Linked DNA regions of Homo sapiens. The protein of the gene in region 2 interacts with the protein of the main gene of each other region in a pairwise test. Each region holds a gene or a part of one and is shown on either strand. Other genes may lie near its edges.

Region 1 (6,192 bases), on a different chromosome or scaffold from region 2:
CCGAGGGGAATAGTTCTTTGATCAGGAGAGAGCTGCAGGAGCCCCAGCATCCTTTGAGCCAGAAGAGCTTGCTGTGGTGGGTTTTTGCTGTTGGCTGCAAGGAGGGCTGGGGCAGAGGCTTACCTCCCCATAAGCAAAAGGCACCTCTGGCCAGCTGAATCTGTTGAATGGTATTTGCACACAAAGCACGGAAATGTATTAAAAAATTCATTCCTATCTCCCAGGTTCTGGCTGTTTGACTTTTCAATCCATGGTGCCGTTATTTTTTGGGTATCAGATTTGGCATTTTTGTTTTGCTCAGCCCAGATCCATGGTAACATGAAGCTGTTTTCCCCAAGCATAGACTCTCTGTAGCATCTCAGAACCATAGGAGGCAGCAGACCTGGTAAGGACTCTACCCACTCATCTCATAGACCCCAGACTGACATGCAAAGCATGAAAGCCACTTCCTGCCCAAGGACTCACCGAGACCTGGCAGTCTTGGCAGAATTGGGGCTCAAATTTCCATTTCCTGATGTTTCAGCCCCTGGGATTTAACGTTTCCTGTGGGTGAATGATGTCCCCTAAATTGAAAGTTGGCCTATTGTGATTGTCACCATGCCCTCAGGGCCCAAACAGCTGGGAAAAAGGAGGCAGCAGGCAAGAGACCTGGAGGAGGCCCGCCAGGTGTCAGCCAGCAAACCTCAAACAGAGCAGCAGCCTAAGCACTCAGAAGCAGCCAGCAGCCTCCAGTGGGGCTACAGCCCTTTGGGCCTAAAGTGAGGATGCACAAGGCCCTATCTTCTCCTCTCAGAGAAAGAGGCTGCAGGATGGGGCAGCAGGGGGCTGGCAGACACCTGCTTGATGACGGTGACAGCTAATGGGGAGATGGAGCTGAGGGCAAGAGGACTGGATGTCTCTACCTCCTGCTGCACCAGCTGCCTGCATTCATCCAGCACATCCCAGGCCTGGCATATCTTGGAGCCCCATCCTGGGACTCAGTGGGAGGTCAGAGCCAGGAGGAGATACTTCCTGTCCTTATGGAATTTCCAGCTTGATCCAGACACACCCGTTGACATCCCTGGCCCAGATCCGCAGAGACAAAACCAGAGATTCTCAGGGTTCCAGACACTATATGATGGGGGCGGGGGAGGGCTGGGGGGTGTAGGGGTGAGGGTGGTAGCTTTGGGGAGCAGAGGAGGGCCCTGAGCAAAGGCAAATGGGAGGAGGGATGTGGGATGGCCTATGTGTCCACAAGGGGTATGTAGGAGAGAGTGTCTCTGGGCTGCCTCAGAGGGTAGACTTGTCTCCTTGGGGTGGAGTCCATGACTGGGAGGATGAGCACCGCATGGAGGGGTTGGACAGGGCTGAGGAGTAGCTGGGGAAGGAGGTGACAGAGGAAGCCTGCATTTGGCATAAGAAGCACACACATGTGCCAGGAAGTGACTTGAGCCAGGCAGGAGAGGGTGAGAGCAGTGAGTTTGGGATGGAGTTTTGGCTGCTGGGAGTACGCAGGGTGGGTCAGGGAGAAAGAGGTCATTAGTGGGGAGCTGGGCTGTAGTCCAGGCCTGAGGGGACTGAGGGCGACTGAGTGGAATCAGACTGTGGAAGTGGACAGGAAGCAGCAGAGTTTCTGGGGGGTGACTGGGGAAACACTGCATGGGGCTGGACTGGGATTGGTCATCTGGAGATGAGGCAAGAAGGGAGTGGAGAAGTTGCTCACAAGACCACACGCTCTTGCATTGCAGCGGCATTTATTGAAACACAGATCGAGACAACCCAGAAGGCAATGCACCCATAGACAGTCACAAGAAGGAGACCCAGGAAGTGGCTTAACTCTCTGTCCCGCCAGCTCTGCATTGGACAGTCCCCACCTGCACCCAGCAAGGGGGCATCTGGAGCAGCCATGGAGTCTTCTTTGAAATGTACAAAGGTTCACTGAATAGCAAGACCTGTCCAAAGTGCCCTAACCAGGGGCTGTAGGCAAAAGGATGCCCCACGATAATGGGCTTCTCAACTGCGAGGTCACATGAGGAGCCTGGCTGGAACAGGTTAGCCCAGAAGCAGGAAGGCAGTCTGAGAGAGAAGCAAAACATGAACAGGAATGAACAGGCAAGTGCTTGCTGGGGGACCATTCTTCCCAGCCAGGAGGAGGGGGCTGCTGGGGAGGGACTTTCTCCCTGATTCTCGGGTTGTGGGTGGCCTGGCTGGATGGTTAGGATGGCGCCTCCACCCAGAAGGTGGAGCTTCCGTGCTGACCACCACGCTGGGGGACTGGTCTTGTCCCTGAGAGCTGGGGGAATAATACAAATTGGATACAGGTATTTTGGAGCTAAGTAGGAGTTAAGTGAAGGGCTGGGAATGCCTCTGAAAACAGCTGCCAGGAGGACAACTAGGATGCATCTCCCTAGCATGAAAAGGCGCAGGGGAGCGGCCCGAGGGTCTTTCCCTCTGTAGGTCTTTCCCTCTGTAGGAACATCCAGAAGATTCTGGAAGCAAGCACACATTTTCCATTCACATGCCATTCAGTGCAGTGATGCAGGCAGGCAGGTGCTTGGCAGGAAGCCCTGGCTCCATGACTCTACTAGGCAAAGCGGACCGACCGGCTACTCCCGCAGCTGAAGCTGGAGGAACGAGGCTGGCAGGGGGCACAGGAGTCAGGGGCCACCACCGTGATGCTGCCGCCTATGGCTGAGGGGCCAGAAGTGATCTGGCGCCCTGGGGTGGTGCTGTAGGAGAGGCCCCCACAGGAGACTCCACCACGGGAGCTGCTGACACCTGTGGAGAGAGGAGACATGGAGGGGTGAGCAGCTCCCTGCAATCTCACCCACCCTACAACAGGCCCCAGGGCACTGCAGGAGCTGCCTCCCTCTCCAAGGAATTGGTGGTCAACAATGCAGGCCCTGTCCCTGAGATGCACAGCCCATCTAGGGAACTGGGGCAGGAAGGAAGTGAGGACCCCTGGACCCCGGGGAGCAAAGCTGCCAGGCCACAGGTCCATGGCCTATAGCTCACTGTCAACACTTGCGAAGAGCACTCAGCTCAGCTTTCTCTAACACCTGTCATGGCCCCCACTGAGGAGCCAGGGGAGGGTGAAACAGTTGGGGGAACACTCGAGGCTCCATGGGTTAGGCCAATGAGTTCAGCTTTTCTATCAAAAAAGCCATTTTTCCAGGAGAATTTCAGGCAGATACTCACAGACATTCACAGAGCCCACACCTTCACACAGCCTATGGAGAAAGAAAACTCTGTTAGTTCCAGACACTGAGTTGGATTCCTTGAGACTGATGGTTGCTTGGGGACAGAGAGGGTCATCCTGTGTACAGAGTCTACCCCTGAAAGGCAAGAAGGGCTCCCTCAAATCTGCATTAAATGCTTTCTTTCTTTGATGGTTTTAACCATGAAGACAAGGCTTTCTGATTTTCAGCAGCAGTGGGTAAGATTATGAACAGTGCCCCTAGTTTGAGTGATGGTGGCCAGCCTGGATGGTGCCAATCAAGCTCACAGGAAGGAGAGTTGAATCAGATACACCAGGGTGTGAAGGGGCTTTGTGGTTGATGAAGAGCTAAATGCATATAGAAGTGCATCATCATCATAACACACAGGCCTGTGTGGCAGCAGCTTCAGTAGGAAGCTATTCAACAAGGACGGATTTGGGAGGCATGAGACTTGGGTGCAGGTCCCAGCTCTTCTGCTTATTAACTGCGTAGCCATGATAAAGGCACTGAATTCTGAGCCTGCTTCTTTATCTAAAGATAAAAAGATGGGAAAAACCATATCTATCTTATTGGATTGTGAGGATTATAAAATAAACACTTAGCACAGGTCTAGCACAGAAGCATTCAGTTATTATTATTATTATTATTGAAGCTATTGTATTAGCCATGGCCAGAGTTGTAGCTCACACTCAGCTCAAGGAAATTCACTCCTGGAGGACCACAGCCTCCACCTCTGAAACCCCACAAAGTCCTCTTAGCCCCACCTGTGTTCCTCGCCCTCCAGCAGGCGCCTGTAGGTGGCGATCTCGATGTCCAGGCCCAGCTTGGAGTTCATCACCTCCTGGTACTCCTTGAGCAGGCAGGCCATGTCCTGCTTGGCCTTCTGCAGGGCGCCCTCCAGCTCAGCCAGCTTGCAGCGGGCATCGCTGAGGGCCGCCTCACCCTGCTGCTCTGCCTCAGCCACAGCAGCCTCCAGCTTGGCACGCTATCAGGTGGAGATACAAGGGCCAGGATGAGAAAGAGAAGCCACAGCTTGGCTCACCCAAGCTGATGGAGCCAGGGCAGGGAGAGGAGGGTCCTGGAGAGAAGGTTGGCCCGTGGCCAGGTAGTTAATGGGGCTGTGAATATGAGGGAGGAGATGGGTGGGCTTTTCATCATCTCTCCTTGATGGCGGTCACAGGGTGGCCAAGGAAGGGGCTGGATCCTCCTTTGGAAGTCAGTGACATGGTCTGATTGCTGTGAAATATGATAGAGCCCCTCCCTTCCCTCTGGGTCCCTGCTTCCTCATGGGCACACTGTGAAGCCTGATTAGGGCCAGGTGCTGCAGCCTGCCTGTGCTGCGTATTTGAATCCTCCACAGACCCCACCTGGCACTTGGCATTCTCAATCTCGGCCGTCAGCCTCTGGATCATGCGGTTCAGCTCGTTGATCTCCTCCTTGGTGCGGCGCAGGGTCTCCCCATGCCTGATCACCGTGGCCTTCATCTCCTCACACTGGAGGAAGTAGAGATGCTCATGAGGCTCAGGGTGGGGCCCCCCATCCATTCAGGACACCACAGATGACTATACAGGTTGTACGGTGCTCAGCCTGTGCAACCACACATGGCAGTCCTGCCCTGCCACTTCAACCTGAGAACTACTGGCTTTTCTCATACTGTCCTCATGGGTCAGAATCCCCAGGCAAGAGAAATCTTTTCTAATAGATGCCTAACTTCCCTCCCACTGCCATGCTTAGCAGGCAGGTGTCCTGTGCCACTCACCTTGCTACGGTACCAGGACTCAGCCTCGGCCCGGCTGCGGCTGGCAACATCGTCATACTGAGCCTTGATCTCAGCGATGATGCAGTCCATGTTCAGGTCTCGGCTGTTGTCCATCTTGACTATGACCGAGGTGTCTGAGATGTGGGCTTGGAGAACGCGGATCTCCTGTGGGGCCAACAGCCAGTGCATTTGCTTCTAGTGCCTGATCTGGGCCACGTGATCCACCCCAGGGGACAATGTCCACTTCCCAGACCGGGCACTGGTCATGAAGGTTACATGACTCCTGCTCCTACCACCTTCACTCATGCACAGGCTCCTTAAAAACAACAAAGCTGAAAGGGGCTGTAGAGGCCATCTGGGAACAGTGTCTGCCTTAAAAGTGGGAAAACTGAGGCCCAGAGGGTGAAAAAGATCTGGTCCAAAGTCACCCAGCAGGGGAGCTGGGGTTTGGAGGCTAGGATGAGTGATTAGTCAGTCCATTAATGAGGACCATGCCCTATGTGCGAAGCCATCCTGACCCCCACCACACATGCACACTCTCTTGCCCATCTGTAGACTGGCACTCACACAGGCAGCACACCAACATGCAGAGAGGTCACAGACACAGAGCAGCCCAAGAACATGTACACCCCATGCTCCTCTCACACATGAACGTGGACATGGCCTCTGTATTGTGGGCCCCAGCACGTATGTGCAAGCTCTTTTCACACTTACATTGCACATTGGCAAACATAGGCACACACATGCACCCTTGCCTCACTGCTCCCCTGTCTCCAAAACACCCCTCCACCTGCCCTGGCTGGGTGGCAGTTGCCCCCTTACCTCTTCATAGAGGCGCCTCAGGAAGCTAGACTCCTCCACCAGGGCCTCCACATTGGCCTCCAGGTCTGATTTCCGCAGGTAGGCACAGTCCACGTCCTGGCCGTGGGACAAAGAGGAGGGGACATGCATGTGAGAGGAGACCAAAGAAAGGTGCCTTTGGTCAGCATGGTGACCCTGCCCCTCGCTGGAGTTTGCACTGATGGGCCCCCTCCTCCTTGCCCCATGACCAGCCCCTCACCTTCTTTAGAACGACAAACTCATTCTCTGCTGTGGCTCTCAGGGCCACCTCCTCTTCATACCTGGGTGTGGGAGAGAGAAGGTCTGGAGCTGAGAAACTGGACCTTGAATACCATCCCAACTCCTGGGCAAGTTCTTCCGGGGATTGAAAAGGGATTAATCCCCTCCAGATGTTGT
Region 2 (9,282 bases):
AAATACATATTGTATGAGTATAATAATGTGATTCCATGTAAACTGTTTTGTGAGCTGTAATGGCAATCTTTAAAACTGGTTTATAGGCCAACAGCATATAAAGTAGTAGATATGGAACAAGATTTTAAAAATCTAATCTGCAAGGTAAAGTAGAGAGTTACATTACTGTCACCATTGACATTTATTTTGCTGACATTAGGTTTGTTATTAATCACAGGCTACATTTAAAAAGTGAAAGTTGGGCCGGGCACGGTGGCACATGCCTATAATCCCAGCACTCTGGGGGGCTGAGGTGGGTGGATCACCTGAGGTCAGGAATTTGAGACCAGCCTGGCCAACATGGTGAAACCCTATCTCTACGAAAAATACAAAAAAAAAAAAAATTAGCCAGTTGTGGTGGCGCATGCCCGTAGTCCTAGCTACTCGGGAGGCTGAGGCAGGAGAATCACTTGAACCCGGGAGGCGGAGGTTGCAATGAGCTGAGATCACACCACTGCACTCCAGCCTGGGCAACAAGAGTGAGACTCCGTCTCAAAAAAAAAAAAAGCAAAGGTTGAATAATCTGAGAGAACAAGGCGTATTACATACATCTTGATGTATGTAATAAAAAGTCATTTAGTGCACCCTTGTGGCATGAATATATTAATGCAGTCTCCAAAGAGGATCACAAATACAATACTGTATCTGAAAGAACCTTGCGTTAAAATAAAATTGTCCTTTTCAGACTATTCTTTAAAAACAAGGTGGGAATTCGCTACTAGGAAATACTTAAAGAGTAGAGAAGAAACTTAATGGATAGCTCAGGGATCCACAGATTTTTTTTTTTTTTTTTTTTTTTGAGACGGAGTTTTGCTCTTGTTGCCCAGGCTGGAGTGCAGTGGCGTGATCTCGGCTCACTGCAACTTCCACCTCCCGGGTTCAAGTGATTCTCCTGCCTTAGCCTTCCGAGTAGCTGGGATTACAGGCATGCGCCACCATGCCCGGCTAATTTTGTATTTTTAGTAGAGACGGGGTTTCTCCATGTTGGTCAGGCTGGTCTCAAACTCCCAACCTCAGGTGATCCACCTGCCTCCGCCTCCCAAAGTGCTGGGATTACAGGTGTGAGCCACTGCGTCCGTCCAGATTTTTTTTTAATATAAAATGAATTCTGGCTATTTAGGAGCATCCTCTCAGTAGAACAGAAATTTTAGCTAGAGCCTGAGATGAAAGTTTGAGTGGGTTCTTTTACTGCTCTGAGAAAGCTTTGACAGGAAGACTAGTGGAAGAGAGGCTCTCAGGGAAATGGTAGTAGGTTTTTTATCTGCCTACCACAGTTACCAAGGGTGGAAGAATAGTGTTTATCTGATGAGACCGTTAAATAGGAAATTTGACTAGTACTTAATGAAAATGCATGTTTAAGGTACATTCTAACACAAGAAATTGGTTGCTTCTTGGGAGAAGAATTGGATGACTGGGAGACAAAAGTGAGAGACTTTTCACCATGAAATGTTTTCTTAAAGAAAAAAGGTTTGGCCAGGCACGGTGGCTCACACCTGTAATCCCAGCACTTTGGGAGGACGAGGCGGGCGGATCACGAGGTCAAGAGATTGAGACCATCCTGGCCAACATGGTGAAACCCTGTCTCTACTAAAAATACAAAAATTAGCTGGGCGTGATGGCACACGCCTGTAGTCCCAGCTACTCGGGAGGCTGAGGCAGGAGAATCGCTTGAACCTGGGAGGTGGAGGTTGCAGTGAGTCAAGATCGCACCACTGCACCCCAGCCTGGGCGACAGAGCGAGACTCTGTCTCAAAAAAATAAAAAAAAGGGTAAAAAACATTTTCCCCTAAGTGTATATAAAAAGTGCTGACCACTGTTAAAAGTTTAGTCTCTTTCTTCCTAATAAAAAAATTCTCTGGCCGGGTGCAGTCGCTCACGCGTGTAATCCCAGCACTTTGGTAGGTCAAGGTGGGTGGATCACCTGAGGTCAGGAGTTCAAGACCAGCCTGGCCAACATGGCAAAACCCCATCTGTACTAAAAATAGAAAAATTAGCTGGGTGTGGTGGTACATGCCTGTAATCCCAGCTACGCAGGAGGCTGAGGCAGGAGAATCGCTTGAACCCGGGAGGCAGAAGTTGCAGTGAGCCTAGATCGCGCTACTGCACTCCAGCCTGGGCAACAGAGCAAGACTTCATCTCAAAAAAAAAAAAAAAAAAAAAAAAAAGAATCTTAATCAGGCTGTTTACACTTATGGTCTATGCTTTTTATGTTTGTAAGTTATACTTCAATTTATTTATTTTAATGTTTCTCACTTCAGAGTTGGTGTTAGATTGCTTTTCTTGCATGTTACGGCTCTGTGTTTAAGAACATGTTCTTATATCTTTATTTCTCCCCGGCTTTAGAAATACATATCGAATGATTGAACAAGATGACTTTGACATTAACACCAGGCTACACACAATTGTGAGGGGAGAAGATGAGGCAGCCATGGTGGAGTCAGTAGGCCTGGCCCTAGTGAAGCTGCCAGATGTCCTTAATCGCCTGAAGCCTGATATCATGATTGTTCATGGAGACAGGTTTGATGCCCTGGCTCTGGCCACATCTGCTGCCTTGATGAACATCCGAATCCTTCACATTGAAGGTGGGGAAGTCAGTGGGACCATTGATGACTCTATCAGACATGCCATAACAAAACTGGCTCATTATCATGTGTGCTGCACCCGCAGTGCAGAGCAGCACCTGATATCCATGTGTGAGGACCATGATCGCATCCTTTTGGCAGGCTGCCCTTCCTATGACAAACTTCTCTCAGCCAAGAACAAAGACTACATGAGCATCATTCGCATGTGGCTAGGTACGTATCTCAGACTTTAGTCAGTCTAATGGCTGTTTTTGTCAGAAAATGTTCCGTCTATTTCAATCCTTTTGGAAACTATTATGGATAGAATACTCTGTTAGCAATGAGAAGGCCAAGGTTTTAGTTCATAGACCTTGCCCTGTGGTATGACTTTACCTCTCTGAGGTTTACCTTTTCTGTAAAATAGGCTTAGTGGATTGAGTTTTAAAAATCTCTGCTATATTTATAGAATGGAATGCTTTTAATCCATTAAATATATTAGTTATAAGAACGATCCTAATATGTCAAAAGGGGGAGCTATAAAATTATAAGTGTAATATGCCATTTCATTTTATTTTATTTATTTTATTTTTTGAGATGGAGTCTTGCTCTGTTGCCTAGGCTGGAGTGCAGTGGTGTGATCTTGGCTCACTGCATCCTCTGCCTCCCAGGTTCAAGTGATGCTCCTGCCTCAGCCTCCCAAGTATGTGGGATTGCAAGCGTGGACCACCATGACCGGCTAATTTTTCTATTTTTAATTTCACCACGTTGGCCAGGCTGGTCTCGAACTCCTGACCTCAAGTGATCCGCCCACCTTGGGCTCCCAAAGTGCTGGGATTACAGGTGTGAGCCACTGCACCCAGCTGTAATCTGCCATTTTACTAAAAACTGTAATAATGGAATGGTTAGGAAGTATGTACACCAAGTCATTTATTATATTTATTTCTGGTGTGGGATTATGGGTGTTTTTATGTTTGATTTTCTGAATTTTTTTTTTGTTTTTTGAGACAGAGTCTTGCTCTGTCATCCAGGTTGGAGTGCAGTGGCACAATCTCGGCTCACTGCAACCTCCACCTCCCAGGTTCAAGCGATTCTCCTGCCTCAACCTCCCGAGTGGCTGGGATTACTATGCCTGGCTAATTTCATATTTTTAGTAAAGACAGGGTTTTTCCATGTTGGCCAGGCTGGTCTCGAACTCCTGACCTCAGGTGATCCGCCCACCTCAGCCTCCCAAAGTGCTGGGATTACAAGCGTGAGCCACCGTGCCTGGCCTGATTTTCTGAAATTTTTTACTACATTGGCAAAATGGTCATTTTTTTTTTTTTTTTGAGATGGAGTCTTACTCTGTTGCCTAGCCTGTAGTGCAGTGGCTCAGTCTCGGCTCACTGCAACCTCCACTTCCCGGGTTCAAGCGATTCTCCTGCCTCAGCCTCCTGAGTAGCTGGGGTTACAGGCGCACACCACCACACCTGGCTAATTTTTTTTTGTATTTTTAGTAGAGACGGGGTTTCACTATGTTGGTCAGGCTGGTCTCAAACTCCTGACCTCATAATCCGCCCACCTCGGCCTCCCAAAGTGCTGAGATTACAGGCATGAGCCACCGCGCCTGGCTCATTTTTATTTTTAATGCTTTTCTTATAGAATTGTTGGAATACTCAGATTATGAATGTTGGAAGCAGTAAGCCATAAGTACTTATTAATATAAGGGATTATGATGATTATTAAAAAGCAAAAGTCATAGTTGTAGCCTTAGAGTATATCTTTGTAAATAAGCCCTATGTTCCAAAATTTTTATTGTTCAGTGCTCTAGCTTCCTAGAAATTATCTTTTGCTAATCAGAGGTAAAAAAATCCAAGTTTACAAACAGAATGTCAGTTGGTTAATTTATAGTAAGAGTACTACCTAGGGGACAAATTAGGACTAATAATCTATTTAGGACCTTTCATTTCTAAGAGGCAGATCTATTGAATTATAAAATTAATGAACAGAAAATTGATTTGGTTGGGTCAGGTATGGTGGCTCACCCTGTAATCCCAGCACTTTGGGAGGCTGAAGTGGGAGTATTGCTTGAGCCTAGGAGTTACAAGGCCAGCCTGGGCAACATAGCAAGACGCTGTCTCTACAAAAAATAAGAAAATTAGCTGGGCGTGGTGCTGTGTGCATGTAGTCCTAGTTACCTGGGAGGCTGGGATGGGAGGGTCACTTGAGCCTGAGTAGTTGAGGCTACAGTGATCTGTGATTACACTGCTGCACTCTAGCCTGGGTGACAGAGTAAGACCCTGTCTCAAACAAAACAAAACAAAAAAAAACAAAAAACAATAACAAAAAAAAAACACAGAAAGAAAAAGAAAATTGAATAAGCAAAGAGATTTTGTATATTTTTAATCTAGATTACATTACATCAGGAAAGGAATTGGGCTTTCCTGCTATATAACGTACTCCATTCTACATATTTCTGTTGTTCAGTCTGGAGTGCAGTGGTGCAGTCTTGTCCTCCTGGGCTCAAGTGATCCTACCACCTCAGCCTCCTGAGTAGCTGGGACTACAGGCATGTACCACCATGCCCAGCTAATTTTTAAAATTTTTTTGTAGAGATGGGGTCTCACTATTTTGCCCAGGCTAGTCATGAATTCCTAGGCTCAAGCAATCCTCCTGCCTCGGCCTCCCAAACTGCTGGGTTTATAGGCATGAGCCACCGCACCTGGCCCATTCTAAATATTTCTTATGCTTGGACAGATTTGTAATTATCAAGGGATCGTCTAGATAATGCTGGTGGAACAACCTTCTGTCTCTTCAGTCTCTCCTTTTAGTATGCTTCCGATGAAACACTCTTGGATTCTGTTCTAATTATACCATTAGCTCTCTAGGTATTCTGGAAAACTTGTATCACTGAAAAACTTGTAATGAATAGAAAATAATAATGTGCCAGATGTGGTGGCACATGCCTGTAATCTCTGTACTTTGAGAGGCCAAAGTGGGCAGATCACTTGAGCCTAGGGGTTTGAGAACAGCCTGGGCAACGTGGTGAAACTCTGTCTTTACAAAAAATACAAAAATCAGCCGGGTGTGATGGTGTGTGCCTGTAGTCCCAGCTACTCCGGAGGCTGAAGTGGGAGGATTGCTTGAGTCTGGGAGTTCAAGACTGAAGTGAGCCATGATTGTGCCACTGCACTCCAGCCTCGGTGACAGAATAAGACCCTGTCTCAAAAAAACAAAACACTAGTTTTGGCCAGGTGCCAGTGGCTCATGCCTGTGACCCTAGCACTTTGGGAGGCCCAGGCAGGTGGATCACTTGAGGTCAGGAGTTGGAGACCAGCCTGGCCAACATGGTGAAACCCCATTTCTAGTAAAAATACAAAAATTAGCCAGGTGTGCTGGCACATGCCTGTACTCCCAGCTACTCAGGAGGCTGAGGCAGGAGAATTGCTTGAACCCAGGGAGGTTGCTGTGAGCCGAGATTGCACCACTGCACTCCACACTCCAGCCTGGGTGAAGAAGCGAGACTCCATCTCAAAAAAAAAAAAAAAAAAAAAAACAAGCATAAAACCCAGGCCAGATGCGGTGGCTCACACCTGTAATCCCAGCACTTTGGGAGGCCACGGCGGGCAGATCATGAGGTCAAGAGATTGAGACCATCCTGGCCAACATGGTGAAACCCCATCTCTACTAAAAATACAAAAATTAGCTGAGCATGGTGGCGCACACCTGTAGTCCCAGGTACTTGGGAGGCTGAGGCAGAAGAATTGCATGAAACCCAGGAGGCGGAGGCTGCAGTGAGCCGAGATCGCGCCACTGCACTCCAATCTGGCAACAGAGCGAGACTCCGTCTCAAAACAAAAAACAGCAAATAACCATTAGAAAGCAGAATGTAGCAAAATTGAATTGTACTTGTAGGGCTTAAAGTCCTATTTGGGACAATTTAAGCAGTTCTTTATGGAAAGAAGGACAACAGAACAGCTAAAATTGCTTTTTTTTTTTTTGGTCTTTAAACCAGTGAAAAAGAAAACTCAAGACAATGAGGCAGAGCCATCCACCACTGGGCAGTAATACATTTTATATAAAACCTGTTCCTGCTTCTTGATATGCAACTTCTTTTTTTTTTTCTTTTTTTTGAGACAGAGTCTTGCTCTGTTGCCAAGGCTGGAGTTCTGTCACCTAGGCTGGAGTGCATTAGCGCAGTCTCGACTCACTGCAACCTCTGCCTCCCAGGTTTAAGCAATACTCCTGCCTCAGCCTCCTGAGTAGCTGGGACTACAGGCGCACACCACCACACCTGGCTAATTTTTGTATTTTTAGTAGAGATGGGGCTTCATCATGTTCGCCAAGTTCGTCTCGAACTCCTGACCTCAGGTGATCCGCCCTCCTCAGCCCTCCAAACTGCTGGGATTATAGGCATGAGCTACCGCACCTGGCCTTAATATGGAACTTCTCATGCTATCACTCTGCTTACAGGAAGATAGGGTTGGGTAGGCCATATATAACATTGCAGCTTTGTAACCAGAGTGTTAATATATAACAATCTTAATTTTAAAATTAGCAATGTTAAAAAGGCATGTTAAATTCCTAATAATGAAAGGCATATCACAGTAAATATAGGACTTTACAACAGAAAACAAAATGCCTTTATGGAAAGGATTTATGAAAGGGCTGAGGCTGCTGAATTATGGATAGATACAAAGACTGGTAATAATATCAGAAGTGCCAGGTGGAGAAGCAGGTGCAAACTTTGTATGAAATGTATTCTTGCCAGGGATGAGTTGCTCTGGCTCATTGTCTTGCGTTTTACTTTTCCCTGGTCTAAAAAGACTTCTAGTTTTTGCTACTTTGCCATCCTTCTTTCATAAAGAAACTGTTGCTGGGCACAGTGGCTCGCGCCTGTAATCCCAGCACTTTGGGAGGCCGAGGCGGGCAGATCACAAGGTCAGGAGATAGAGACCATCCTGGCCAACATGGTGAAACCCCATCTCTACTAAAAAATACAAAGATTAGCTAGGCGTAGTGGCATAGGCCTGTAGTCCCAGCTACTCAGGAGGCTGAGGCAGGAGAATTGCTTGAACCCACAAGGTGGAGGTTGTAGTGAGCCAAGATCGTGCCACTGCACTCCAACCTGGGCGACAGAGTGAGACTCTGTCTTAAAAAAAAAAAAAAGTAAATGAAACAAAAAGCTGGTTCTTTGAAAAGATAAATAAAACTGTTAGACCATTGGCAAGATTAACCAAGAAAAGAAGGGAGAAAATCCAAATAACCTCACTAAGAAATGAAACAGGAGATATTACAACTGACACTACTGAAATACAAAAGATCATTCAAGGCTACTATGAACACCTTGACACACATAAACTAGAAAACCTAGAAGAGATGGACAAATTCCTGGAAAAATACAACCCTACTAGCTTAAATCAGGAAGAATTACATACCCTGAACAGGTCAATAACAAGCAGCAAGATGGAAATGGTAATTTAAAAATTACCAACAAAAAAAATTCCATGACCAGATGGATTCACAGCAGAATTCTACCAGACATTCAAAGAAGAATTGGTACCAATCCTTTTGACACTATTCTACAAGATAGAGGAAGAAGGAACCCTCCCTAATTTATTCTGTGAAGCCCCCATGACCCTAATACCAAAACCAGGAAAGGACATAACAAAAAAAACAACAGGCCAATATCCTTGATGAACATAGATGCTAAAATCCTTAACAAAATACTAGCTAATCAAATCCAACAACATATCAAAAAGATAATCCTCCATGATCAAGTGGGTTTCATACCAGGGATGCAGGGATGGTTTAATGTATACAAGTCAGTAAATGTGATGGACCACATAAACAGAATTAAAAATCACATGATCATTTCAGTAGATGCAGAAAAAGCATTAAACAAAATCCAGCATCCCTTTATGATTAAAACTCTCAGCAAAATCAGCATACAAGGGACATACCTTAATGTAATAAAAGCCATCTATGACAAACCCACAGCTAATGTAATACTGAATGGGGAAAAGTTGAAAGCATTCCCTCTGAGAATTGGAACAAGACAAGGATGCCCACTCTCACCACTCCTCTTCAACATGGTACTGGAAGTCTTAGCCAGAGCAATCAGACAAGAGAAGAAAAGGGCATCCAAATCAGTAAAGAGGAAGTCAAACCGTCACTCTTTGCTGACAATATGATTATTTACCTTGAAAATCCTAAGGACACCTCCAGAAAGCTCCTAGAACTTATAAAAGAATTCAGCAAAGTTTCTGGATACAAGATTAATGTACACAAATCAGTAGCTCTTCTATACACCAACAGCGACCAAGCGGAGAATCAAACCAAGAACTCAACCCCTATTACAACAGCTGCAAAATTAAATTAAAATAAAATAAAATAAGTAAAATAAAATAATAAAATGAAATATAAAATAAAATAAAATACTTAGGAATATACCTAACCAAGGAGTCAAAAGACCTCTACAAGGGATATTACAAAACACTGCTGAAAGAAATCATAGGCTGGGTGCAGTGGCTCACACCTGTAATCCCAGCAATTTGGGAGGCCAAGGCGGGCAGATCATTTGAGTTCAGGAGTTTGAGACTAGCCTGGCCAACATGGTGAAACCCTGACTCTACTAAAAATACAAAAATTAGCTGGGCATGGTGATGTGCACCTGTAGTCCCAGATACTTGGGAGGCCGAGGCAG

What was found. Proteins that work in one complex are often made in the same cells at the same time.
Region 1: the proteins of GNE (region 2) and KRT85 interact in binary tests that used the Homo sapiens proteins (3 or more experiments, as listed by UniProt).

The regions. Positions count from the first base shown.
Region 1 is NC_000012.12:52,358,290-52,364,481, forward strand, and holds the end of KRT85 (keratin, type II cuticular Hb5), read right to left. Parts: exon of another isoform or gene 6,132-6,192; coding exon of another isoform or gene 6,078-6,131; coding exon 6,017-6,077; intron 5,875-6,016; coding exon 5,779-5,874; intron 5,122-5,778; coding exon 4,957-5,121; intron 4,691-4,956; coding exon 4,565-4,690; intron 4,183-4,564; coding exon 3,962-4,182; intron 3,210-3,961; coding exon 3,178-3,209; intron 2,758-3,177; coding exon 2,564-2,757; 3' UTR 1,717-2,563; downstream 1-1,716.
Region 2 is NC_000009.12:36,239,583-36,248,864, reverse strand, and holds part of GNE (bifunctional UDP-N-acetylglucosamine 2-epimerase/N-acetylmannosamine kinase), read left to right. Parts: intron 1-2,382; coding exon 2,383-2,834; intron 2,835-9,282. UniProt on the Homo sapiens protein: Bifunctional enzyme that possesses both UDP-N-acetylglucosamine 2-epimerase and N-acetylmannosamine kinase activities, and serves as the initiator of the biosynthetic pathway leading to the production of N-acetylneuraminic acid (NeuAc), a critical precursor in the synthesis of sialic acids.